4 separate regions of the Homo sapiens genome follow, and all the other regions are reported to be linked to region 3. Evidence: microRNA targets listed by miRTarBase, many of them from high-throughput screens and not tested one by one. Region 3 holds a microRNA gene; each other region holds the end of a gene's coding sequence.

Evidence for each region. Region 3 holds the annotated microRNA hsa-miR-3691-5p (AGUGGAUGAUGGAGACUCGGUAC, at 2,021-2,043, opposite strand). A microRNA usually pairs through its seed, bases 2 to 8, with sites in the 3' UTR of a target mRNA and lowers its output. Matches are read on the target gene's strand: a 7mer-m8 pairs with bases 2 to 8, a 7mer-A1 pairs with bases 2 to 7 and ends in A, and an 8mer does both.
Region 1: miRTarBase lists PACSIN2 as a target of hsa-miR-3691-5p. Seed matches in the 3' UTR shown: 7mer-m8 at 505-511.
Region 2: the mRNA of ZNF772 is a reported target of hsa-miR-3691-5p. Seed matches in the 3' UTR shown: 8mer at 1,944-1,951.
Region 4: the mRNA of CA8 is a reported target of hsa-miR-3691-5p. The part of its 3' UTR that is shown has no 7-base or 8-base seed match.

What each region holds. Positions count from the first base shown.
Region 1 is chr22:42,864,671-42,871,793 of GRCh38, reverse strand. PACSIN2 (protein kinase C and casein kinase substrate in neurons 2) reads left to right here. Exons shown (of 11, transcript NM_001184970.3): 11 at 325-2,021. The coding sequence ends at 437. LOC101927393 (a long non-coding RNA gene) reads right to left here and starts at 380. Exons shown (of 3, transcript XR_001755575.2): 1 at 291-380.
Region 2 is chr19:57,466,965-57,474,087 of GRCh38, reverse strand. ZNF772 (zinc finger protein 772) reads left to right here. Exons shown (of 4, transcript NM_001144068.2): 4 at 1-4,502. The coding sequence ends at 814. Among named protein-coding and RNA genes, the nearest start is that of ZNF772, 7.0 kb to the left of the region's middle.
Region 3 is chr6:5,146,266-5,153,388 of GRCh38, forward strand. It overlaps MIR3691 (microRNA 3691), which reads right to left and starts at 2,057; the gene lies at 1,968-2,057. All of the region lies in intron 2 of LYRM4 (LYR motif containing 4), which reads right to left. The region is part of intron 3 of LYRM4-AS1 (LYRM4 antisense RNA 1); the gene reads left to right.
Region 4 is chr8:60,202,710-60,209,832 of GRCh38, forward strand. It overlaps CA8 (carbonic anhydrase 8), which reads right to left. Exons shown (of 9, transcript NM_004056.6): 8 at 6,041-6,210. The coding sequence ends at 6,076. Among named protein-coding and RNA genes, the nearest start is that of CA8, 75 kb to the right of the region's middle.

The DNA of each region.
Region 1 (7,123 bases), not on the chromosome of region 3:
CTGCCACCTGGCCAGGGTGGTGAGGAAGGCACAGCCCTATGGAGCTGGATGCCGCAGTCTCAGTGGGAGCCACTGTGGCAGCTGAGAGCAGCTTGTTCCAAATTACTGTGTGAGACTGTCATCTCTAGGTCTGTCAGAGGCCCATGACCAAAGAGGCAACTTAAAATGCATGCATTTAGTAGAGAAATGACCAGGCCCTCGGCCTGCCCGCCACAGAATGCCTGGCCCTCCACCCTCTGTGGGCTCAAAGCTCGTGAATGCGGCTCTGTAGCCCACCGTCGGTGTCATACCTCTCATGGAGACGGCTCCCTCTTTGTCTTGCAGGGGATGAGCTGACCAAGATGGAGGACGAGGATGAGCAGGGCTGGTGCAAGGGACGCTTGGACAACGGGCAAGTTGGCCTATACCCGGCAAATTATGTGGAGGCGATCCAGTGATGAGTCGGGGACAGGCCAGCGGGGGGACGGAGGCGGCGGGCCCAGGAGCCTCAGCCAGCCACGTGGGCATCCACTCCTTTTCCTGCAAGAGATGATGGTTCCATTGCTCTTGGCTTCATGGTGTTCCTGGAAGGCAGATGAGCTGGTCATTTCGCCTGGGACTCGGCACCTTTCCGAGTGCAGCTGGAGGGATCTGAGCGCAGGAAGACGCAGAACAACAGAAATAGCCGCCCCTCCCCGCCCACTGTGCCTGTTGGCCTATCATAGATCTCTATGTTCTTGACTTTGTCTCTCCTTTCCGAGTCAATGGTGGGTTACACTGATCTTGTTCCACTGATTACTCTCTCTGACGAGTCCATCACCTGCAACTTAAATGAACAAGCTTACATCCCATTTTGAGTGAAGATTTTGAGGTTTTTAATTTAAAGGCTGTGTACAGTTATACTTTTTTATACACCTGTTCATTTCTACTTAAATTATGGCACAGATTGATGCGCACCAGTCTTGAGGAAACGATCTCCCTATTCCCTTACCCTGTTACTCAGCCACGCCGTGTGTAGGCTTAGCCTCAGGTGGCAGATGTTTGAGGAAAGGAATTATGCCAGGAAGGTGGGACCGGGTTATGGTCGGGTTTCTATTGGGAATGCTCTTTGTGCTTTTGGGCATCTGAATGGAAGCTTTACATAGAACCTTAGGTAGAACTCCCCCAAATCGCCATATTTAAAAATTATTTTCACTCTATTCTTGCTTAAAACTGTACTCTTTTGCAAATTAACAATTTTATCACTGATTCAGAGTTAAAAAGAAGACTAACTTTTCAAGCAAATGCATCTGTAAAGATGCTTTAGATTAGACTGTCATGTCTCAGTGTCTATCTGTATATATTATTTGATATTCAGAGAATCTAAAGCACTCGTCTACTGTTTTAATGAGATTTAACAGCTTTTAACAGTGAGTTTCGTTTGTAAACTGCTTGAAGTCTGTGGCATTCAGGCACACGTCTGGCTGGCCGGCTGGGTCTCCTCCCGGGCTCAGTGGGCCTGGGGCCTCTCTGACGTGGTGCCTGCTGGAGGGAGGCTCGTCGTCACCAGCTGACTGCTGGTCCGGCTTCTGACCGGCCTTTGTCCTGGCTCCGTAGCAGAACACTGTAAAAGTGCCCGCGTCTTTGCAGTAGTTGCAGATTTCAGTCGTCGTGTTACTTGTGCACAAACAGAAGCTGGGTCTTACCCGCAGCACGAGTGTCTCGGGCTGCCCGGAGTCGCCCGGGAGCAGGTGCTGCAGCCAGAGTTACGCGGGGGCCACGCGGGCCGGCGGGGGTGGGGGGAACGTGGGGGAACCTGTGTTTCACGTGACTCAGCAGTGCCCGCCGCCGTCACCAGCTATGCATTCACTCCGTTTCCAGTGAGCAGATGTCTTGCTTGGAAAGTGGACCTGTGTCTGTGTCTGTCCTGAGAACTTACCAGCAGAAATCCTCATTTCTGTGCTACGGATTTACCAAAAATTGTCAAGTCTTTTTCAGTTTAACAGTTCCTTTACATGTGTAGTATTTGAGGAAAAAAATCAATAAACAGTTGATCTCGTGCATATGGAAGTCCCTTCGCCATCATCTGTCTTCATGCCCACTTCACTTGGCGGGGGTGGCCTCCCTGGGGCTTACTAGCTTTGGAGCTGGGCAAGATCCAGGGCACAGGACCCCTGCCCAAAAGGCCACGGCCCACTGCCCCTGCCAAACTGGAGGTTGGGGATTTGAGGCACCTGAGCCCCTTGGGGTTCCCTTCTCCCCGAGACCTGCTGCTGTTTGACCTGGGCTTCCACATGGTGCGGGCATCGGCTGGCGCCTCTCTATTGCCCCAGCCCAAACAGCAGGACAAGACTGACATCACCCATAACTCTCCTATGAGCACATTTTCCTGAGCACCTACTGTGTGCTCTCCACTTTTTACTTACATTATCTGCGTCTCCAAACATCTCCACAGGGTATGGGCAAGTCTCCCCATTTCCATTCTACCGAGGAGGAAACAGAGGCTCCAAGAGCCAGCCAGGGTTTCTTGAGGAGTCTCAGCCAGCCCAAAGCACTGAGCGAAATCCCTGAGGAACCACCCCCTCCCTCGCTGGAGAAACTGAGGAGGGAGGAGGCTTGGACTGGCTTGAAGACAGGAGAGAAGCAAGACGTGAGGGCGGCTGTGGCCACGCTCACCGAGCCCTGGGAAGGCTGCCCAGAAAAGCACGCCAGCTGGGCATGGGGCCTCACAGAGCACCTGGGAGGAGCAAGGCAGGCAGCTGCCCCTGCAGTGTGGCTTTGTCCCAGCTCAGCAAGGGTATGGGACAGATCCTTGTCACGCAGCCTCCTTGTCTGAGGGGTGGCGGGTCCCCTGCTCCCAGCTTCTGAGGAGTTGGAGCCCTACAGCGCAGGGCGGACACCCGGCTCGGCCCACAGCCCCAGGCTGCAGAGAAACAGGCAGAACGGGGTTGGGAGGGAAGGTGGGGGGTCAGAAGCAGGCTCCTGGTGCCAGTGGCCTCAGTCACTGCCCAAACACCATGGCAAGACCACGGTCCCCGCTGAGCTGGATGAAGCAACCTCCACTCTGAGGCTGGATCACACGGCCCCCCCCGTGAGAGATCTGGCAGGGCCTCTAACTGCCCATCTTCCCTCTCCTGCCCTGCCCTCAGGGGCCAGCTTGGAAACTTCAGCTTGTCTCTAGGCCTCAGTTTCCCCAAGTAGAAGTGATACTTTTCCAGTTGGAGAGTTAGAGCAAGAAGAAAAGGTGGCCTGGGCAACATAGTGAGACCTTGTCTCTACAAAAAGTTTAAAAATTGGTCGAGTGTGGTGGTGCATGCATCTAGTCCCAACTACTTGGGAGACTGAGGCAGGAGGATTGCTTGAGCCCAGGAATTTGAGGCTGCAGTGAGCCATGATTGCACCACTGCACTCCAGCCTGGACGACAGAGCTCTCGAGACAGTCTCAAAAAAAGAAAAAGGCCGGGCACGGTCGCTCACACCTGTAATCCCAGCACTTTGGGAGGCCGAGGCGGGTGGATCACGAGGTCAGGAGATCGAGACAATCCTGGCTAACACGATGAAACCCCGTCTCTACTAAAAATACAAAAAATTAGCTGGGCGTGGTGCCTGGCACCTGTAGTCCCAGCTACTCAGGAGGCTGAGGCAGGAGAATGGCATGAACCCGGGAGGTGGAGCTTGCAGTGAGCCGAGATCGCGCCACTGCACTCCAGCCTGGGTGACAGAGCAAGACTCCATCTCAAAAAAAAAAAAAAAAAGAAAAACGCCACAGGCACTCAGGAGCTGGTCATTGTCACGATTATGAGTGACACCATAGGCAGGGGCCCAGGGTTCTCTGCTGTCCATGGCTGCCCTTCGCTCCTCCCACAGCCACCACCCTGGATCAGTGCTGCCACCAACTGTCCACACCTCTTCGGGTCCCCAAGGCCCCTGAGTTGACACTAGGGGGAGTGTTAGCCCCAGAGCCCTCTCCTGGGCCAAAGCTACCTGGAGCTCAGGACAGGGGTATTTCATCATCTCTCTCCATCCTTCCCACAACCCAGAAATGTCGGGAGGGTGAGCAAGTGCTGCCAAGTGACCGGAGTAGGGATCTGGCTTTGCTGCAGCCTGAGCTAAAACTGGGCCTTCGGAGGTCCCTGCAGATGGAGAACAGGGCTGACCTCTGCTCTGGGCTCTGATGCCAGATCCTGGTCCACTCAGAAGCATGTAGTGAAGGCCCGACTGGGCAGCCTGGGCTGTGTCAAGGCCTCAGGCACTGGATAGGCCTGGAGGGAACCCGCTCACAAGCCATCGGGATAGGGATGGGGGAGGTTGGGAAGGACTTGTGTGGACCACCTGACCAACCCCCTCATAGTTCATGGGGAAACAGGACAAGTGAGAGGAAGCAGTGACTTCGCCGTGGGCACAGACCATGTGGTTTGGGAAGCTGAGCAAGGCCTGACCCCTGAGTGGCCCAACCTGGTGAGGGATCAGCTGGCTCTCCTTATGTATCCATTGTGCAGTCATTCATTCACCATGCATCTATTGAGCACATACTGTGTGTGAGACTCAGCGGTGCCAGGACAAACATGAAGAGAAGCCAATCTTGCCCTTGGGAAACTCTGGTAGGCTCAGAGAAGGACCTGTGTTATTCTGACACCATGATGGGACAGCCAGAGACAAAGGGCCAGAGTTGTCTTCTGAGAATGTGTGTGCTGGGTTTCAGAAGTCTCAGGCCTCCCAACCCAGGCTCCAAGGCCTCAGAGATCAGAGCACTGCTCAGTCCTTGAGCCGTTCCCCAACTTCCTGTAGGAAGTGTCCCTGAGTCCCCACCTGGGCAGGAGGCTGGACCACAGACAAACGGAAAATGCCTGAGCTTCATTTGCTGAAAAGTAGGGATGACTGGCGGGCACAGTGGCTCATGCCTGTAATCCCAGCAGTTTGGGAGGCTGAGGCGGGTGGATCACCTGAGATCAGGAGTTCGAGACCAGCCTGGCCAACATGGTAAAACCCTGTTTCTACTAAAAATACAAAAAATTAGCCGGGCATGGTGGTGGGCACCTGTAATCACAGCTACTTGGGAGGCTGAGGCAGGAGAATCGTGTGAACCCGGGAGGCGGGGGTTACAGTAAGTCAAGATTGCACCACTGCACTCCAGTCTGGGAAATAAGAGCAAAACTCTGTCTCAAAACAATGACAACAAAAAAACAGGGGTGATGAAGTGAGGATAACTTAAGGGGTGCTCAGAAGCCAAAGACCCTGCCAGGTGGGCACCCCAGCCTGTGGGTGCCCTGTAAGCTTTCCTTCCCCCACCCCTTTTCACAGTCCAAGGTCTCCCCAGAGTGGTGGCTGTCCGCTCTGCTCCCCTCCCTTGTCCACCCTTCCTGAAGCCTCCTCTGAGGCAGGGAAGGTCTGCGCCCCTCCCCAGCCCTTCCACAGACACCTGTGGAAGACAAAGGCCACTCTCTGGGCCTCGGTTTTCCGAATAAATGGGCTGCATCTCTGTGGCCCCTGTGGTGGCAGCAAGCAGAGGGGCCCTCAGGCCAGGACGGAGTCAGCTCCAGGTGCCAGCCAGTGAAAAGAACCAGGGTCAGGATGGAGGTGGCTCCACCACACCTGGGAGGATGTGCCCAAACTGAGCTAAATCTGGCCTCGCCTGCAGTTGAGGTACGAGGCTCATTTCTGGCCAGGCATGACCACCACCAGGCACAGGGTCGGAGGAACCACAGTGCTCATCCTCCCTCTAGCCTGGGTATGTGGCACTAAACCAAAAAGAAAAAAGAAAACGCAACAAATCTGGGACTATCCTATGAAACCCAGATTATATTGTTCTAGGCATCTACAAATCCTTTGTGGAAAGGGCTAGGAAAGGAAGGAAGGAAGAAAGAAATGAACTAAATAAGTGATGTCACTCTTAGGGGAAAGGATACCAGCACCAACGGCCAGTGGACCAAAACTCAGACGCCAGAGGAATACTAGGTGCTAGACCTCCCGAAGGTTGCAGAAACCCAGAGCGCCTTAGGGTTAGGGTTAGGGTTAGGGTTAGGGTACGAGGACCTAAAAGACCCTGAGCTCAACAGCATTCGGATCACCAAGGCAGCCGCCTCAGGGCATGTGAACTACATACAGTCACTGGCCGCTTCTGGGCAAAGACAGCCAGGTGGCCCTGCCACTTTATGGTATTTTCCAATAGGAATCTTAATTATTTTTTCCTGATTGTAAAAGGAACAAAGGCTCAGATGAAAATTTGGAAATTTAGTAAAGGTATTCAGAAAAACATTAGTTATCTGTGATCCTGACTTCCAGAGGTTACATTGCTAACATTGGGGTGTATTTTTTTCTGGTATTTTTCCTAACATATATGCACATGTGCCATTTTCTTTTTTTCTTTTCTTTTCTTGAGGTGGAATTTCACTCTCGTTGCCCAAGGCTGGAGTGCAATGGCACAATCTCGGCTCCCTGTGCCCCCCACCTCTCAGGTTCAACAATTCTCCTGCCTCAGCCTCCCGAGTAGCTGGGATTACAGGTGTGAGCCACCACGCCCAGCCACATGTGCTGTTTTCTTGTCGTCATCATCATCATCAATGTGTGTATGTGTCTTACAAAATTGGGATCGTACTGTAAATATAGTTTCGTTCTCCTGCCATTTGATCATGAGCATTTTCTCATGTCCCTAAATATACTTCAATTAAAAATAAACACCAGACATAGTGGCTCATACGTGTAATGCCAGCACTTTGGGAGGCCGAGGTGGGAGGATCACTTGAGCCCAGGAGTTCTAATCCAGCTTGGGTAACACAGGGACACCCTGTCTCTACCAAAAATAAAAAAAAAATTAGCCAGGCATGGTAGCACACACCTGTAGTTCCAGCTACTCAGGAGGCTGAGGTGGGAGGATCACTATAGCCTGAGAGGTCAAGGCTGCCGTGAGCCATGATTGCACCACTGCACTCCCGCCTGGGAAACAGAGCAAGACCCTGTCTCAAAAAAAGAAGTGAAAGAAGTAGAGGAGGTGGAAGGAGCAACAGGAAAGGCTGGCACACTCAAGTGTAACTTTTATTGAAAAAAATCTGGCTGGGCATGGTGGGTCATACCTGTAATCCCAGCACTTTGGGAGGCCGAGGTGGGAGGATGAGGTCAGGAGTTGGAGACCAGCCTAGCCAACATGGTGAAACCCCGTCTCTACTAA
Region 2 (7,123 bases), not on the chromosome of region 3:
GATGTCTTTTGTGACAGGGGAGGCTTGTAAGGACTTCCTAGCCAGCTCAAGCATTTTCGAGCACCATGCCCCTCACAATGAGTGGAAGCCACACAGCAACACCAAGTGTGAGGAGGCCTCTCACTGTGGAAAAAGGCATTACAAATGCAGTGAATGTGGGAAAACCTTCAGCCGCAAAGACTCACTTGTTCAACACCAGAGAGTCCACACTGGAGAAAGGCCTTATGAGTGCGGTGAATGTGGGAAAACCTTTAGCCGCAAACCCATACTTGCTCAGCACCAGAGAATCCACACTGGAGAAATGCCTTATGAGTGTGGCATATGTGGGAAAGTTTTTAATCATAGCTCTAACCTTATTGTACATCAAAGAGTACACACTGGAGCAAGGCCTTACAAGTGCAGTGAATGTGGGAAAGCCTATAGTCACAAATCTACACTTGTTCAGCATGAGAGTATCCATACTGGAGAAAGGCCATATGAGTGCAGCGAATGTGGAAAATACTTTGGTCACAAATACAGACTCATTAAACATTGGAGTGTTCATACTGGAGCAAGGCCTTATGAGTGCATCGCATGTGGGAAGTTCTTTAGCCAAAGCTCTGACCTTATTGCACATCAAAGAGTTCATAATGGTGAAAAGCCTTATGTGTGCAGTGAATGTGGAAAAGCCTTTAGCCACAAACATGTACTTGTTCAGCATCATAGAATTCACACTGGAGAAAGGCCATATAAGTGCAGTGAATGTGGGAAGGCCTTCAGGCAGAGGGCTTCCCTCATCCGCCACTGGAAAATTCACACTGGAGAAAGGCCTTAGGATGGGAGATAATTCCGTTTCCTTGTTCAACATAATAACTGACATCAGAGAGAAGCTCCAAGCATAGCCTTTATGTGTAGCCGACAGCCAGAAGTAGAACTTTATACACTCAAACACTCACCCTGGGGAGGTTCTTCCGAGTGCCAGCTATATGGGAAGCCTTCTGGAGCTATGCTGAATTTTCTAGACTCTTGCTGGAATTTCGTCAAGGCAGTGCCTGTTAGAAGCCATCTGTCTTTGTGCTGGAAGAGTCCTGCCTTGTGCCAAAGTAACCCCAATGTGTTTCAAAAGACAGACCTCTGTACTATTCCCTTCCCTGGAGGGAATCATCAGTAGCCTGAGGCCATCAAGGATTCTCACTTTTTTTCTGCCCCACTACTGGTTTAAGCATGAGCATGACCCAGTTTTAGCCAGAAAAATGGGAGCTTTGTTCTGCTGACCACTGGCAGAGGTTTCCCTTCATGGATATAGTTGATCTCACATGGCACTTGGGACGAATTTTTCTAGCCTTCAAGACACCTGACCTGAAATTGGCTGCCTCATATTCTGGTTTTGCAACAAATGCCTTAATTTTTAGACTATCTGAAATCTTGAGGATTCTGTTCGCTTTGTGGGTTGGGTTGAGAACAGAATTGAGCTAAGCCAGTATGAAGGGAAGAACAGCTTTTGTGAGAGCTCCAACTATCTGTATCTCTGAAGTGATAGTAGGATGGCAAAGACTAGCTCTTATGCTAGTGTCAAGCTAACTTACTTGACTGCTTCAGCTCTCCTAGGAAAGAATGCCAGTCTTTGTAGGCCTAATCTTTTGGTCTATATGTTAAGATTTTTTGTGTAATTGAGGTCACCCTAAGCAGTGGGCATTTGTTGTGATAATCTCTAATGTGTCTGGGAGCAACATGAATTACGTCCCTTGTTCCCAGAAGATACTTCATATTCCCAAGGCTTCTTGAGGAGAATTTGAACTCAGTGGACATGTCAAGATCTCTGAAGTCTATTTTTCAGTAGGCAGTTGATATTGGCTGTCCTCCAGAAGGCCCAGGTAGGAATCATAGTTGGTGCAGAAACCCAGATTAATAAAGGAATGAGAAAACTGCAGCAAACTATAGGGAATATGACCCTTCTAAAGGTACATCCACATGTGTTTCCATTACTCTGGCTCCATTATGAGGGTTTACAGAAATATTTCCATACCTGTGTCTCTTATGGCTAAGGTTACTGTCCAGAAGTCAGTCTAAACATTTTTGCAATAAACTGCACATATTTATAGTGTACCATTTGATAAGTTTTGATACATGTTGGCACTTCTCAAACCAAAAGTTTCCTGATTCCTTTTATATTTTCTCCCTTTCCTTCACCCATCCCCAGGCAACTATTGATCCGTTGTCACTGTAGATTTGTTTGTATTTCCTAGAATTCTACAGAGATAGAGTAATTTAATATGTATTCTAATGTTTTTGGCTTCTTAAACTCTGAAATTAAGGCTCATGGTGGTGTTCTGTGTTTCATAGTTCATTTCTTTTCATTTGTACTTTGCTAAGAGTGTTCCATTGTAGAGAAATAGTTTCAAAGCAAGTGATCCAGGAGAGAACTCACACAAGAACAAAGCCACAGTATCTGTCATTACCTTAAACTGAAAGTGATGAGCCGTCATTTCTGCTATATTTCATAAGTAACCCTAGCTAATCCTGGTTAAAAGTGGAAGAGAACTACACAAAGGTGAAAATAGGGATTTGTGGGGCGTTTTCTTGGACTCTGGTGACCATAATCCTATATGGTTTTTTTCTTTTTCTGTTTTAGTTGTTTAATATGAATTACATTGACTGATTTTTTTAAATGTTAAGCCAACCTTGCATTTCTGTAATAATTCCCATTTGGTCATGATGTATTAGTCATTTAGTATATTGTTGAATTTGATTTGCTATTTTGTTTTGTTTTGTTTTGTTTTTTTGTAACAAGTTTTGCACCAATGTTCACGAGTGATATTTGTCCCTAACTTTCTTTCTTGCTTGCTTGCTTTTTTTTCTTTGTAATTTTATATCTTGCCCAGGTTTGGCTTTGGTATCAGCATAATGCCAGCTTTATAGAGTAAGTTGGGAAGTATTCCTGCTCTTCAGCTCTCTGGAAGAGTTTGTGAATAATTGGTATTATTTCTTCCTTAAATGTTTGGTAGAATTCACCAAGGAAGCTGTCTGGGCCTGGAGTTTGTTTTGTAGGAAAGTTTCTAACTATAAGTTTGATTTCTGTGGTAGATAGAGGGCTGTACAAGTTATATGTACATCTGTCTGTGTGTGTGTTGTCTGTCTGTCACTCTGGCCCTGAAGTGTGTTTTGTAGGACAGCATCTAACTACAAGTTTGATTTCCATGGTAGATGGAGGGCTATACTAGTTATATATACATCTGTCTGTCCGTCCATCTGTTTGTCACTCCATCCATCCATCTATCTCTAGAGTGAGCTTTGATGGTTTGTGTCTTTCAAGGAGTTTTTCTGTTTTATTTAAGTACTCAAATTTTTCAAAATATTATTTTCATACTTGTAGAATTTGTAGTGGTGCAACCTCTTCTATTCCTGATACTGGTAATGTCTATATTTTTCTTTTAACCTTGATTGGTTTGGGTAGAGATTTATCAATTTTACAATTTTATTGATCTTAAAGTACTTGGTATTATTGAATTTTCTGTTTTCTGATATTTTGGGATTTTTCTTTTCCATTTTGAGTTTTACTAATGCCTTCCGCTTTTATTGGATTTCATTTCTTTTGCTACTTTTTAACATGGAAGCTGAGGTCCTTCATTTCAAACCTTTGGGTTTTTTTCCCCTAATATGGGGAAGAGATGTTAATGTTAAAAATCTATCTGAGAACTGCTTTAATTACCTCCCATCAAGCTTGATGTGGTTTCATTTTTTTTTTTGAGACAGTGTCTTGCTCTGTCATCCAGGTTGGAGTGCAGTGGCGCGATCTCGGCTCACTGCAAGCTCTGCCTCCTGGGTTCACACCATTCTCCTGCCTCAGCCTCCCGAGTAGCTTGGACTACAGGCGCCTGCCACCATGCCTGGCTAATTTTTTGTATTTTTAGTAGAGACGAGGTTTCACCGTGTTAGCCAGGATGGTCTCGATCTCCTGATCTTGTGATCCGCCTGCCTCAGCCTCCCAAAGTGCTGGGATTACAGGCGTGAGCCCAGCCGATGTGGTTTCATTTTAGTTGAGTTTAGGATGTTTTCCAGTTAAAAAAATTCTTCTTGACACATGGCTCTTTTTAAATGTATGTTATTTAATTCCTAAATATTTGGGGATTTTGCTTATCTTTCTGGTAGTTTCTGCAATAATTCCATTGTGGTCAGAGTACATTAAGACTTGAATTATTTACATTTATTGAGATTTGCTTTGTGGCCCAGAATATGGGCTATCTTGGTATGAGTTACATGTTCACTTGAAATGTATACTGTACTCTCGTTTGATGAAGGGGTTCTACAAGTGTTGATTAGGTAAAAATGGTTGATGTTATTTAAGTTTTTTCTATCTTTATTGACATTCTGTGGTTTTGGTTCCAGCAATTATTTTAAGAGGATTGTTGACATCTCTGAATATTAAATTGGATTTACTTCTCTGCAGTTCTGTCAGATTTTGCTTCACATATTTTAGTATGTTTTTATTAGGTGAATAATAAATATTTCCTATTTTATGTCCACTTGATGTGTTGACCACTTTATCATTATGATCCTGTTAATCTCTGGTAATATTCTTTCTCTAAAATCTCCCTTGTCTGATACTGTTAACATGGTTTAATTTTGAATGGACACTGAATTTTAGGTACTGATTTTTTTTTAATTTTCTATAGATATTCTTGATTTCTTTTTTCTGTTACATGGTTAAGTTACTTGGAAACAATATGATCTTTTGGGGAGTCTTGATTCTAAACATTTCTCGATGAGATTATTGCAGCATACATTTTAAGACAAATTCCCCTCCCATTACTGAGACACAACCTTCCTATATTCTCTACCTAATGCTTCATGAGTTATGAGTTTTTTTTACTCAAGCTGGTTGAAATGAGAACTATCATGTTTTCTGTATAAGCCTTGGGAATTGCTTCCCGTATAATCCTTTCAGGTGGTTCTTTACCCATCCTCTGGTCTTTTTCTATATGCAAACACAGATTATACTCAGCTGAATACTTGGGGATGGCCCTCTATATCTCTGAAGTTTTTTCTCTCCTGTACTCTGCTCTGTAGACTCCAGCTACCTTGGCAAACCGAGACTCTTAGCTATGTCTCCTTAACACAGGATGACTTTTGGGCTCTGAGCTCTCCATCTTTGTACTAGGGCCTCAGAATTAATTTTCACAGTAACCTTATTTAGTTTTTTCTTTTTTGAGAAAATCTATGAACCCATGTTTTTTCTTTCTGATATAGTGGAAGGTCTATCAATTTTAATAATTTATTCAAGGTGTCTCCTTTTTTTAATCAGAAAGAACGTAAATCACATATTACAGATAGGAGCAATGAAACATAGTATAGTACTAGATAACTTTGAAACATATAATGGATAATGTGTGATTGTTTTAAACAACCCTTTCTCAGTAAGTTGAAACTTGGAAAACAAAAATCCATTGAAAGATACCAACTGACCAGGCTCACTCGAGATCTGAAAAATCCTCTACTAAAGATATTTAATACATATATCTATATATCTCTTAGAGAGAAAGAATAAGTCATATTCTAGTGAGATTTGTTAGGATTTTTTTTTTTTTTGAGACGGAGTCTCCCTCTATTGCCAGGCTGGAGTGCAGTGGCGCGATCTCAGCTCACTGTAACGTCCGCCTCCTGGGTTCAAGCAATTCTCCTGCCTCATCATCCTGAGTAGCCGGGATTACAGGTGCACGCCACCATGCCCAGCTAATTTTTGTATTTTTTGTAGACACAGGGTTTCATCATGTTGGCCAGGATGGCCTTAATCTCTTGACCTCATGATTTGCCTGCCTCGGCCTCCCAAAGTGCTGGGATTACAGGCGTGAGCCACCGCACCCAGCCTTGAGATTTGTTAGGATCTTAAAGTTGGTTTAACAGTAGAAAATCTATTAATTATTATATTAAATACAGTCTGTGGTGTAATAAAAAATATATCTGGATCTTTGTCCCAGGCTTAGTACTACAAAAATCTTGTAATTCTTTGAGTGAGAGAAGTGTATTTTTTATACTAACGAAGTGATTCATTATAGGCTCCTAGAAAGGTTCAGAATGGGGGCTCTTCATCAGAAAGACCAACCATGTAATAAGAGGGTTGAAACTTTGAGCCAGATTGACCTTTGGGGAGAGGAAAGGAACTAGAGATTGAAGTCAGCCATGTGGTTGTGATTTAATCACAGCTACAAAATGAGATACCCCCTCCTCGTTCCTCCCTACCAACTTAGAACTCTTGACGCAGAGGCTTGGTGGAGTTTCCTGGTTGGTGAACATGTTGATGTACCAGGAGGGTGATGTGCCTTGACTTTGTGGGGAGAAGGTATGGAAACTTCACATCTAACCAATAACTAGAACACTTAAAAAAAATTCTCAAATGACCATCCATAGGTGAATGAGTAATTGTATTAATTTTCTAGGGCTGCCATAACACAATACCAAAGACTGGGTGGCTCAAACAACAGAAATTAATTTTCTAACAATTCTAAAGTCCAAGATTAAGATGCTGGCAGTGTTGGATTTCTCTGAGGCCACTCTCCTTGGCTTGCACATGGCTGCCCTCTTTCTGTCTCTTCACAAGGCCATCACTGTACGCATGTGTACCCCTGGTGTCTCTGTGTGTCTTAATTTCTTATAAGGACACTGGTAAGATTAGGGTCCAACCTAATGGGCTGATTTCAACTTAATTCTTTAAAGTCCTACCTCCAAATACATCACATTTTGAGGTACTAGGGGGTTAGGATTTCAACATATAAATTTTGGGTATGCACAATAATGTCCATGGCAGCAATCGATTGTAGCATCTCTATGAAATGGAACACTATCCAGCAATATAAAAGGATGCCTATACATAATATGGACAAATCTCAAAAGCCTTAAGCTCAGTGAAAGAAGCCAGATGCAGATGATTACATGTAGTATCATTCAATTTATGTAAAAATCTAGAAAAAGAAAAATCAGTGGAGCAAGAAGGCCAAAGAGAAACATTCATCAATTTTCTCCCCACAGGAACACGAGCTGAACAACTACTCATGCAAGAAAGCACATTCATAAGAACCAGAAAACTAGATGAGTGATCGGAGTACCTGATTTTAACATAATATCAAGAAGAAAGGCATTGAAGTGGGTA
Region 3 (7,123 bases):
CCTTATTGATGCCCTGTCCCTAAGGAGACTAGACTTGACTCAGAGTAAAGAATGGGCCTGTGCCAGGTCTGTGCTTCCATCTTGCTCGCATGTTATCTTCTGAGGGGGTATTGTTACCTTCATTTTTTTTATTGGTGAAAAAACAGAAATGCCGAGAAGTTAGATAGTATTATACTTTTGTGCAGTCCATAGAGCTGGAAAAGGGAGAGCCAGGATTTATACCCCCAGGCAGGACCTGGAATGCTTGTGAAACGCAGGCCCCACTCAGTGGCCCACTCCACAGCTACCCTCCTTCCTTCTCAACACAGCCCCAATTTCCCCCTGAAGCGGGCCTCTTCCCAGCACAGCCCCCAGGCATCAATCTTGCTTGACGTTAGGCAGTTGTGGTGGGGCCCAGCTACCTGTCCAGTGAACAGCTTAGGAATAATTGCATACCACAACTCTGGCCAAAGTGGCTAGAGGAGGGGGTTCCTGGGCCTTCTGCAAAAGGGTTCTTTCCTCTCAAAAGAAGACAAGACTCAGGGGCTTTTCTATTTTTACTGTTGGACACTGCTAAGCTGGAGCCAGGAGGCCGGTCTGTGGGCAGACACACTGTTACATGAAATAATTCCAATACATTCTCACATCAGGGATTTAGAGGGAAAGTGAGAGACCATCAAAGATGGCCATTTTAGGTCAATTTACAGAAAAGCAGAAGAGCATGTGAGAGCTCAGCACTGAGATGGATGGAATGATTTCCCCATCATCTATCCCCCAGAGGCAGGGGCTTTTCCTAGTTGGCAGTCAAACCCCAGTGGCCTGCTGGAAGCCATTGGTACCAGGCCATTGGTATTACTTGAGTAGAACTGGGATTTATGTTTTCATGATGATCCTAATTGGGTCACAGGTAAGCTTTGCTGTGATGTTTGTGTTTGAGTCCACAAAAAAATTTTACAGTAATTTAAACCTGTATTTATGTTTGATACGAGCTCATTTTGTTACCTTAACAAAACAAGGGTGTGCTGGGATTTTGTTTTCTTTAAGCAGTTTAATGACTCCAGGAAGTAAACGTGTGTAGTTATGGTCTAGCTAAAGTCACTGATGTCATATTTTAACCTGGATTTTGGGTTAAATAATGGATAACGTACCTAATTAGGCTACCAGTAAACAATCACTGCAGGATTTCACCTAAAATGCCAGTGACCAGAAGTAGATGGTGTCCTCTTTCTCTGAAAACTGGGGATCAATGTGAGGTTACAGTTGAAACTATGGGTTATCAATGTCCACAGAATATACTGGCCCTAGGTAAGTAGAAAAAGTCCTTGAATTTGCTTAACCAAACTTTACATATGCTCATGTGACTACCTGTTTTATACATGGATTCCTTTTCATCTTTGAAGGAAGACAGGAAACAGGGATACTAAAATTCACATTCAGAAAATATTTCCATGTAGAGACGTCCATCTCCCCTCGGTTCTCTCCCTACTGCCTAAACATGCTTTGTTAGCAGGCCAAGTCAGACGTGGTCCACGGCAGGGTGAATTAGGCCCTTCTGTCTCATCGCTCCTTCCTTTTTAATATTCCCGAGGAAGTAACAGTATGGTACTTATTAAGCCAAATTTTCCTGGAAGCTCCAGGTCTCATTGATAGCCACGCTGATGAGAGATTACTGTCCGACTTTCCTTTTGTAAATTAGTGGGCAACTGGTTCTCTCCACATGGAGCGGGAAAACAATCTCTGTCTTCTTTCAGTTCCAGAACACACCAAGCTCGTTAGCACTCCCCAGGCCACCTGCCCTCCCCCACTCTCCCTTCACGTCACCTTACTCATCACCAGGTCCCAGATGAAAGAGCTCTTGCTCACAGAAGACATCCGTGACTGGTGTCCCGGCCACCCTCCCAGCCCGCCCTTTTGAACAGCACGTCTTACAGCTGGTTGTGTTTTACTCACCCGCATGCTCGTTTGTTGAACATTGGCTCCCAGACCGTTTGAGGCACTGAGGAGAGGATGACGCAGACTTGGTCCCCACCCTCAGCAGTGGGTACCGAGTCTCCATCATCCACTACCCAGTGCCTCAATATTCACTGAAACGTAAAAGCAGGAAGGAGAAGCAAAGACCTTTATGAGCCTCAAGGCTATGTGACACCCACAGATCAGCAGGGTATGCAGGACTTCCCGTGCTGTGTGGGGAGAGTTAGAATTCTGAATCGTAATCCTGAGCTGGGCTGAGGGGGCAGAGTTAGAACTCTGTATCGTAATCCTGAGCTGGGCTGGGTATACGCCTTGAACAAGTCATGGTGCCTTCTAAATAGTCTCAAGTGCAAAACATGGATGAGAAAATGAGAAAAGTTATAGAAAGTATTTTTTAATGAAAGAATTCATATTAGGTGACAGGTAATGACCTTTACACACACACACCTCTCTCTCTCTCTCTCTCTCTGCTTATAGTGACTGAGAAATCAGCTCTCCCATAACTTTACCAACAATAATTCTTGAAGATGAGAGCCTCTTGTCTGAAATCATTTTCCATTTATAGTTATATGAAAGATATAATGGAATAACTGCTAATTAAATCTATAAATATACATATAAAAATTACCTTGTCATTTGTAGCGCGCTTCCAAGTATAAAATTAAACGTGGTTCTGAATTTTTCCCCTAGAACTCTAAGTTTTCATTTCTTAATCGTCTAGAATAGCTCCTTTAATAAAATTTCATTTTTGACATGATGCTTGCTTGATATTTTAAAACTGTACTTTAAACCTGAAATTTCACATTAATTATTATATTTTTAGGATTGGAAAATGACACCATCTTTCAGATAAATGATTGGATGAGTAATATTTAGCCAATTTCGCTTTCTGTTGCAGGTACAGTTCTGAGTGTTCATTAATATTCAATGAAATTTCCATCAGTATGTATGATATTTTCAGGTTTTCAAAAATAAGTGAAATAGGCACTAATGTGGTGATAACACTAAAATGAGGGCCTGAAAGAAGCCCCGACACGTGGGAAAAGCCTGCTAACAAAGACGCACTGCAACAGAAAGACCTCACAGGAGAGGCCCTTCAACCCAGGATCGGTATTTTATGGCATCAGCTCATTAATTCCTCCAGGTCCCCAGGACACAGATATCAAGGATGGTGTCAGGCTCATTATCTCAGACACTGAAACTGAGGCTAGGGAGATTTTCAGTGGTTAACCAAGGTCAGATAGCATGTCGTAAAGCTGGGATTCAAACCTCTTTACATGTCTGCTTTCAAAGTCGTAGCTCAAACCACTGATCCTTATTGCTTCTCCAGAGAGATATTCTCCAAAATACTCTAGAATTAGGGGAAGCATTAATCTGAAAATCTTGGTATGTCTTCTGGGGGTGGGGGTGGGAAGAGGAACCCTGAAGTCCCTGACTACTGTGGAGATGAGGATATCAGAGGGCTTCTTATAAAGTTCTCATTGGAATAATAAAACTATGAGGTAATAGAAAATCTGGACCAAATTATATATACATTATTTAGATACGTAAACATCAGATACACAATTCCACTTAAAAGCATGCCTGTCCACACATGGACACACATATGCACAACAGGCAGGTGCAAGCCATTCCCAGAACATGTCGTCTTACTAGTTCATCATGGTACTACGTTTGTTACACCTCTGAATGATTTCCTACGAGCAAAACATCCATCACTTTAAAATAATGTTAAGACACTCTAGGATAAATGTAACAAAGGGCAAACGTCAAATGTTAAATCTTTATGCACAGAAGCAGATGAACACAGCAGCATGCCTCTGGCATCCCCAAGTCCTCGCTGACATTCAGACAGCCACCCTTGTTTCAGGCTACAGTAAAGCAGGGTATTAAGAGGCAGTAATGCACCGCAGCCCATCTGTCCCATAAAAGCTCAATACGTAAGCTTTGTAGAAGGCAGGTGATCAGTAACAGTGGTGAACCAGGTGTACATTATTTTAATCAACTACATTCTGGACCTTTATTCTCAAAGTTTCTAATGGCAAACGAATAAACAGAGAAACCAACCATATCTGCCCTCCTTGCAATTTTTTCTTCTTTTGGATTCTGATTTTCCCCTATTGTTGCACCTCCTTTCCTTCTCTGTTTAACCAAGGCTGGGGACCTTAGGCCATCAGACCTGGGTTCAAGTCCCAGCTTGGCCATGTATTAGTTCTGTGACCATGGATACCCTGGTTTCAGGTACTTTCTATGCAAATGGGATATAATAATGACACCTCATAGGGAGGTGAGGTCTGAGGTATGCAAAATCCTGAGCACAGTGCCTAGTACACAGTAGGCCCTCACTAATTGTTAGCTATTAACATAATTATTCTTTCTTTGTGGTCTCTCCTTTGGCCACCTTGAAAAGCATCTGAGATAGCAAATGTGCACATGTTCTGTGAGCAGCAGAGTGTCATGCATTTACTAATTCTCAATCGAGCCTCCAGCTCTCCCCTGCAAGCGTGTAACCGCTGCATGCTCAGGCTCTGACTACTATCTTGAGTTGTAGAACTACAGCTGAACCAATCTCTTGCAGCTTAGAGTCACTAAAATCAGAGTCCTCAATGTGTTTCTAAGGTTGGCTCCTGTTCCTGAGTTTGAGTTTGCTATTTCTGATGACACAGCCTTTATGAGAATGGTATAGCATTCTCTTCCATGTCTTCTTTTCTCCCTTCCTGACTTTTAATCTTCAATTCAAGCCCCTATCAGCTTATTTAATCAGTGTCTACACTAGTACTCTCATGGCATGGCTAGAAGTGACCTTTACTTATTTAACCTCTTACTCCAAATCTTCAGGGGCTCCAAAATGCCTTTTGTTTGTTTTGAATTTTTTTTTTTTTTTTTTGCAACGGAGTCTTGCTCTGTCACTAGGCTGGATTGCAGTGGCACGATCTTGGCTCACTGCAACCTCCGCCTCCTGGGTTCAAGGGATCCTCCTGCCTCAGCCTCCTGAGTAGCTGGGACTACAGATGCGTGCCACCATGCCCAGCTAATTTTTTGTATTTTTAGTAGAGACGGGTTTTCACCATGTTGGCCAGGATGGTCTCTATCTGTTGACCTCGTGATCTGCCTGCCTCAGCCTCCCACAGTGCTGGGATTACAGGCATGAGCCACCGCACCCGGCCTCCAAAATGCCTTTTAAATAATTTCTGAAGTCTCTGCCTGGCCCATCTCCCTTTCACTGGGTTTGCCCCGACTCCTTCACAGTTGTTGCCTCCAGGAAATCCTCTCCCCAGTCACACGTGCCAATTCCACCCACTTCTCGGTCCTTGAGCAAACGGCTCCTCTACCAGAAAATGCTTATCCTGCCCTCGGTGGCATATGCTATCTCCTGTATCAATTCGCCAAGCATTTTATCAGGAGGCAGCATGTTCTAATGGAGAAGGGATGGGCTTTCAAAGCAGAAAGGCTTGTTCTGAAATCCTGGCTCAATTTACTAGCTGCATGACTAGGGGCAGATTATTTATTCTCTGAATGTTTGATTCCTTATCTATAAAGTGGGATAATAAAATCCACCTCACCGGATTACTGTCATAATTAAATTAAAAGTCCATAAATTATCAAATAGAGTCTTTAGGGCACAGAGGGAGGCTTAACAAATAGAAGATAAGTTTTTCCTTGTTCTTTTCTACCAGTATTTTTCCCATTTTGCTTTCTGGGAGAATCCTGTGTGCCCCCATTTTGTCTCCCTGGCTGGATGACAGGCTCCAGGAAAGCAGGATCTTTGTGGGATTCACTGCTGCAATTGCTCACAGCATCTAGCAAGCTCCCAGACATGGGTGATTCACGCATATTTGATGAATGAATAAAAGAATGATACCATATTCTTGTCAATATGTATCACTGGAACCACTAAGTATGGGAACTGGAAAGGACCTTAGAGAAAAATCACTGACCCAACTTCATTCTATAGATGAGGAGCAACATGACGCTGAGAAGCTAAGCAGCTTGCCCATGGTTAGCACGCCAGTGAGAGCGGCAGACTCAGCTCTGTGTTTCTCCTGCCCTGCCAAGCTGCTTCCCTGATCAGCTGCAGGCAAGTATGTGATGCCAAAAGCATTTCCTAGGAAAGCGGCAACTAAGCGACAACTATGTCACTCGGGGAAACACCCACAAACAATGAATGACACACATGTACTACCTCCAGTGCCGGCATGACGTACTAGATTAAATAGGGGGCGAGAGCTGGCTTTTAATAATCTGCCATCCTTCTAATATTTTTTTAAAAACTATACCCCATCGTATCTTCTTTGGTGAAAATGTCCAGTCAGAAGGCATGGCTGGTGGAGGCAAACGGAGAAGTGAGGCAGCCCCAGCTGCGTGTCTGTCTCCGGCCTGGCTGTTCCCCTCTGTTGTACACGCTTCCTCCCTCAGCCCCATTACAAAGGTCTGCTTTACTCAGTGCCTGAGCTGATGCCTAGCTACTCTCATAATCAGCTAAGCTAATGTGCTCATGGAACTGTTTCCAGGGGATGGGACTGCGTGTTTCTGGGGAAAGCCTTCCTCTTGGGCCTCCTCTGTTGTTGGCTGGTAGGAATTCCAGGCTAGGTCACGGGGCAAATGGAAACACGCAGCAGACGGCAACTCTTTACCCACTGCCCTGTGCTGACAAACTTGCTGCCAGATGAGAAAGGCATAAGGGTGGCTTATTTAATGACAGGATTTAGAATTTTATTTATGTGACAACTAGTACTATATCCTTAGTAGCATACTTAAGGCCGCTGGGCTTGCAGGTTCCTTAAATGAAGGCAGTACGTACCTAATTCTGCCTCTGTGTCCCAGGACTGTCACAATACACTAGGCTGTTGGTTTTGTTTCTGTTGAACCATTGGTAATCTTATTATTATTTTTTTTGTGTGAGAGAGGGTCTCGTTCTGTCGTTCAGGCTGGAGTGCAGTCGTGTGATCTCAGCTCTGCCTCGCCTCCTGGGTTCCAGCAATTCTCCTGCCTCAGCCTCCTGAGTAGCTGGGATTACAGGTGTGCACCAACACGCCTGGCTAATTTTTATATTTTAGGAGAGATGGTGTTTTGCCATGGTGGCCAGGTTGCTGTCAAACTCCTGACCTCAAGTGACCCGCCCACCTCAGCCTCCAAAAGTGCTGGGATTACAAGTGTGAACCACCACACCTGG
Region 4 (7,123 bases), not on the chromosome of region 3:
CTACCATACTCCCTATTTTAGGTCCTCCAAGATCACAACGAATGCTTTGGATCATTCCAAAGCACTTACCAAAACATATTCTGCAATCTCGTATTATTAGCTGGTTAAATAAATTTGTGAAATGCTGTATACTATACCATACCCTCTTGGAGTTCACATAGGTCCCTGGCATAGTAAAGATTCTCAGAAGTCTTGCATGAAGAAAACCTGCTTAATGAAGTATGTTACAAACTTGTTTGACTCTACTACGTAGACATTTATAGTCTCGTGGAGTAAGTAAAACTAAAACTGCTAAGTGCAGTAGAAAACAAAAAAAAATAATAATTTAAAACTAAACTAACATGGTACTAAACTCAGAAAGCAAAGAAGGATTAGTAAGGTCAGTTTACTTGGGAAAAAGACTTCATGGAGGTAAAACCTGGTCCTTCAAATATCAACAGCATTTAAACAGAAAACAGAGAGGAGAACATTCTAGACTTTAGGTTGGCAGATTTCTAGGAGTGACCCAAAAAAGGCAGACAGCTAAAACAAATTGTCAAGGTGCTAAGATTGGAGATAAAAAAAAGAAAAATGAGATGCTTACAAATAGAAAACTGAAGGTCAGGTAAAATTTTATTGAAAGAAAAAGGATAACTTCCCTGATTGTCACTACTCTTACACGGTCTAATATGAACTCTTGGTATCTGCCTAGTAACAATCCAGTTTTTAATAAAGTTTCAATTCCTTAACCCCTTATTTTAATCTGAATGAGGTAGACTTTTAGGCAAGTCTCTCAGTTTTTCCAATTGAAAAAATAGTAATCTCAGTATAAATCCTATTTTGATTCTATTTTCCCTCTATTTTTAAGATTTTTAATCATAATGAAATGCTGACATAAAAGCTTTATTTGATACTACTGCTTCTATAATACCCTCTTTTAAGAGGTACAGAAAATATTAAAACAAATTTATTCAATGCTTTTTTAAAAAAGTATCTCCTTATACTCCTGATTAAAGTATAGGTGATTTCCAATGATTTCTGCACTTGTTTTTTTAGCATTTTTAGTAATTTCCTTAGATGAATTTTTAAGCTTTATGTTTTCAGTTGGAGACTTACTAACAAAACCTAATTCATAAAAAAAATTCACTTCATTTTCCTCCTCATTTACCTGCTTCCTGTTCTCTCTGGTTTCTCTTTTCCATGATAAATTTAATAGAGACACAGGAAAGCATATTCATCATAAACCAGGGAACTATAATATCCAGTGCTCGAAGGGCCTTTGTGAGGTCTGTTGGAACATTTCCCCAATCCCTGTCCAGGCAGGTTCCCACCTAAACCACCTAGGAACCTCAAGTATTTAATGCCTTAGTCTTCCTCAAAAACCCACTCAAGATTTAAACCACCTACTTACAGGAAAGGTCTTTCTTGGAGCCTCTAGAAATAAATTCTTTCCTTAGCTAATTCAAAGCCTTTTGCTGATACTTGAAAGCCATTTTTTAATGTCCACTTTTGAGTATACATGAGGTAAAAGGCATGAAAGAACATGTTTAAATGACAAACTGGTCACAGTGATTTCCTTATGGAAAAATATATTCTTTAGGTTTAAAATCATGAAATCTACTGTATCTAGGGTATCAGAACATATTAACATTCGACATACAAGTTGGCCCATGACTGCAAAACATTCTTCCTCCCAAACACAATTTTGTTTTAATTCATAGTGGGAGGAAAAAATCATTCTGAAATTTTTATCCATGATAAATTATTAACATTTCTAAAACATAAAAAGGAAGAGATATATTTTAAAGCACGAATTATTTTCTTTGTTTAGTAATCTTGAAGAGAGCTCATACAGCTCTTGTATTTTTCATTGGTGGGTTAATAATTTTTATATCACATAATCAAAACATAATAGGTATTCTGAGCATCCTTGGTGTTTTGGCATTTTACTGAAATCATTTTGAGATCTGGTAGGAAATCCATTCCAGTTGGAGGAAATTCTATGAGATATAATAAATAGAAAACAGCTACATCTGTAGAGCCTTCAGTTCTAACCCTAATGCTGTGCACCATGTTAAATTATCAGAGGAGAGTCCAAGTTCTACTGACTGAAAATATGGCTTTGAGCTTTCCATTTAATCTGGAAGGATAATAGCTTTCACCTACTTGGTCATTCAGAGTGAACATTCTCACTTTCCTTTCCTCACACAGGCACCCCCTTCTCTATAATGCCTTACCCTCTTCTAACCTGTAACTCTTTTAGGTTATCAAAGAAGACTGATATGAAATTGATACTTGTTATAGCTTTATTAAAGCTAAGAAGACAATATTATTAACCGCAAAAGTACAAGTAGGGAAGAGTTCAACAGTCAAGGATAACTTCAAAGATCCCAAAAGAAAAATAAGGGCAAGTTTGACAATGGGACTATTTGGAGATGCTTGCTGAATAACCCCATTTTTCTGGCTTTGTTTCTTTTTTAACGTATTTAGGGCATTCTTATTTTTCCACATTTAAGGCAGAAAAAAAGAGAAACTAAAGAGCCGTGTGACATTGCTTTTTACAGAAAATAATTATAATTCATTATAGTTACTGTAAACATGTATACAGCTTAACAATATTTAGGTCACAAGCGAGACAGTCTTTGAGCGTCAGAACAGCCTTTTAAAAATGGGCTAACACTTTATGAAGTAAAAAGGCAAATAATCAAATAATCATTTTGCTGGAAGATGAGTACCAATGTCATGATACCAAAAGTAACAAGTAAACTGGACCTTAAACTTGTTATATCATTTGTTCATTGTTATTAAAATACATTTAGTTCTCCTGCATCATATAGAAAATTCAATGGGTAAAGGATCATTTAATATCAATAGGCACCCATAAATCTGAATTAGCACCGCTGAACCAAAGAATTTCCAGCACCTGGATGACTTACATACTAATTCTTTAAACAAGTATAATACAAAATCATAGTTCATACTTCTTAAATGGTAATATAAAAAGTCACAGATTACTCATGGGAATAATAAAGCTTGGTTATCAAAGTCTTCCAGGTGCCCAGACATGTCATTTTTTTAAAAATCTGTCATTTTAAGTCTAAAACTAAAGTTATTTCAGTAAAACATAGCTAAAATATATCTGAATTATTTTAAACATTTTTTAGAGAACAACTACCAGAGAAATGTCTTTTCCTTTTTAGTTCCAAGAGCTTAAATGAAACATTCATGCATTAAATTCAAAGTCTGACTGTCAAATCATTTCACTTTAATAAAAATTTGAATTACCTGCCTTAGGGCATTATTAAATATCAAATAAAAAGTACACACACATAAGTCTGATTCCCAATATAATTTTTATATAGAACTCTGACCAGATTTGTATTACACATTTCAAGATAAAAGTATTCATAAAAAAATGAAATAAGAATTAGTCACCTTAGAATTCCTGTACCATTCTTAGGAATTTGGGAGCAAATTATCCCCTTTAAGTAATCTCAGCCACCAAAGTAAGAACACAAATATATCTTCCTTTTAGAAATAGTACCTAAATTGTAATTAACTCAAAACTTTGAAAAACTACACATTATTCATCTATCATATAAAGAATATGAAGTATGTGAAATATACAAAATCTCATAAACAACATTTCTCTGTGTGTGTGTGTGCGCGTGTGTGTGTAAAAGAGAGAGAGAAAATAATAATAGTCATTTAGATATTTAGAGAATGGCAACTCTGGTCTAGGACAAGATACAAACCAAACATTCAAGGGAATAATCTCCCTTCATTAAAAGTATCATTTACAGGTATTGACATTCACAGGGAGTATACTAACTAAACCTAGACTGGAGAAATGCATAAATTCACGCTTTGCAACCCTCATCCCACCCCCGCTGCCTCTTGGCCTCTCCTGTGAACACATCCTTCCCTCTTCCTCTGCTCCTATCCATCTTCACTGCTGCTCTCCCACTCCTAGCTCCTGCCCCTTCATCATTAAATGGTAAGAGCAAGTCATGGGTACACAGCAGCTCTAAACCACCACCTCCTTCTTTCTTCCTTCCCATTGCAGCACAGAGAGTGCCCATCCTCTCAGCAAAAGCCAGTCTCCCTGTGTGCTTAGGATTTCATCCCTTTCAACTTTTCAGACTTCACTGCTCCAGCTCCTCCCAGAAGCAGTATCTTCAGCCTCTCTCCATCTACTTGCTCCTTTCCCACACCCCAGCATATAGACAAGTTCTATTTCTTTTGTTTAAAAAAGAAAAAAAAAAAGACTTCTTCAATCCCACCCCGTCTCTGTTGCTGCGGCCTCCTGCCCCACCCCAGCCCACCAAGGTGGCTGCGACCTGGAGTCTCCAGCTCCTCCCTTCCTATGGCCTTTAGCCTGCTGCAACCACATCCCTCCTTGATGTGTCACTCGACCGCCAGTGTGGCAAAACTCTCTAACCTCTGCCCATGTCGTGGTGAAGAAAAAGGGCTCTGCCAGTCAAGCTGCCTGGATCTCCTTCAGCTCCACTGCTCAATCACTGTATTACTTTGGCCCGTAACCTAACTTATCTGTGTCTTGGCTAACTTGTCTGTAAAGCCTCCCACAAGATTTTATGCACACTTAATTAAGTAACCCCATTAGATCCATCAGAACATTATATGAACATATACAATGTCTACACCCAATACGTCCCTATTTCAACCCAGACTTGTTTTCTGTTCTCTACTCTTGAAATGCTAATGACCTTCATGACCAGAGTCCGCTATTGCAGTTTGTGGTTGACAGGCATCTCTCACTCACTGTGCTGCAACTCAACTCTTTATCTTCAACCAAACAGGGCCTCCCCGCAGCTTTCCCACTGCCACTCAGTGGCACTCCATCCAGGGTTTCCAAAGTGTAAGACCCCGGAATTTATCTTTGACACTTCCATCTCCCTCCACCCCTCATCCAATTCATCACTAGCTATAACCTGCGATTTCTATTTCATATACATCAACTTCTCTCCACCTCCACTGTTCCTATTCTAGTGTCCAAGCCTCCGCATCTATCACCCTGGCTACCTGGCAGACTTCTTCGTTTTTTTGTTTTGTTTCATTTTGTTTGAGACACGATCTCAATCTGTCACCCAGGCTGGAGAACAGTGGTGTGATCTCAGCTGACTGCGGCCTCCACCTCCCAGGCTCAAGTGATCCTCCCACCTCAGCCTCCTGAATAGTTGGGACTACAAGCGTATGCCACCACACCCAGCTAATTTTTAAATTGTTTATAGAGATGAGATTTCGCTGCTTCCCTAGGTTCTATTCCAACAGATGCCTTCCCCTTGGGAAGCTGTGGTTTGCCAGTGATGTACAATGACCTATGCACTTAGGAAATTTACAAGGTAAATAAATAATCCAATATATAGTTTGTTTTATATTTTATCTCTTCCGTGTTTGTGATATTTTATTTTGTTAGTTCCTTAAGAGTAAGGAATACATACATTGAATTCTATATATTAAAATACATAGATTATGTTTCAATCAATAGTGTATCATATTCAGATAATTAATAAGTGCTTCTCAATTTATCATATAAAAGGCACTTCCATAGAAGAAGTATTTCAATGCATGCCAGATATGCTCCCTCCCCTGAGAAACAAGAGGATCAATTCTGCAGGAGACGAGAAGGGTCCACACTGAGGCTCACACGCTCCCCAAGTCCCCTCCTATGTGCTCCTTGGTCACTGGGACATGACTGGTGCTGCTTCACGGGGACAACATGGTAAGTTACTAAAGAGGTATGCATGCATGTCACTTTTTCTGGGCCTGAGGGTGTCTGTTCTTATGAAAGCCACCAAAACTTGGAATTAAAGGCTACTCTGATAGGAAAATATAATCATAGTTTTTCTTCAATACTGCATAAAATTAAAATACCTACTTGACCTGTAATTAACAGAGCTCAAGAATGTGTCATAAATTTTATCAAGATGAAGTACATACGCTTTTATTACTAAATTACCAGGATCACAATAAGTGTACCTTTGGTACGCTAGGTTTAAGTAGCTGTGCACCTCATTTTCCTTACTTAATCTGGACATACCCTCATGAAGACAGACTTGTTCCTGTCCTCTTTGGCTACTGAAATGCAGCTCTAATGACTCTGTCACTAAGAGGCTGAGTGGGCCGAAAGTTGTCTCCCAAAATCCCATCACAGCCTTCCACAAGTTCTGCCCCCTTAACATGTGTCCTCAGCCTTCGAAATTCTTCTATCTGAAAATAAAAGCAGAAGAAAATAGATTAATCAATTATCGGACATTAACAAGATTGGAGTTTCATAAATGACATGCATAAAATATGTATAAATTACAAGAATTATTGAAGAGAAAATTAAAATTAAGCTTCAAAAAGAAAAAAAACAGACTTAATTCTTCCAGACCTAAGACGTTAGAGAGGACCCTTTCAAGAAATGACAACAGAAGTAGACATATCAAGATCTCTGAACAACTCAAATAGATAAAGAAATCTGCTCCATTTGTTAATGTAAAAATGATACAGGCCGGGCACAGTGGCTCACGCCTGTAATCCCATCACTTTGGGTGGCCAAGGTGGGCAGGTCACAAGGTCAAGAGTTCAACAGCAGCCTGATCAACACGGTGAAACCCTGTCTCTACTAAAAATACAAAAATCAGCCAGGCTTGGTGGTGCACACCTGTAATCCCAGCTACTCAGGAGGCTGAGGCAGGAGAAATCACTTGAACCCATGAGGCGGAGGTTGCAGTGAGCCGAGATCACACCGTTGCACTCCAGCCTGAGTGACAGAGCCAGACTCCATCTCCAAAAAACAATGATACAAACCTCTCCCAAAAAGGTTTTATGCCTATCTATAGCATAATAAGAAAAAGTGAACAAATGAATGTGCTCTTAAATGCTTTCCAAGTACATTTTAATTAATGGATTCTTATGTTACTGTATGTAAACACTGATTAGATCTTAGATTTATCAGATAGATTCAAGGTTTCCTTTCATCAAAAGACTTTTGCCACTTTTCTAGCCCTCTGGAGAGCACAGGTCCAAAAAAATGATTTTTCAAAAGTCTGAGCCCAAATTCCTGTCTTTACAATATTGATTTTCAAGTTCATTTCCCTTTATTAGGTGGGCTCTCCAGGTCCCATGGCTTCCCCAC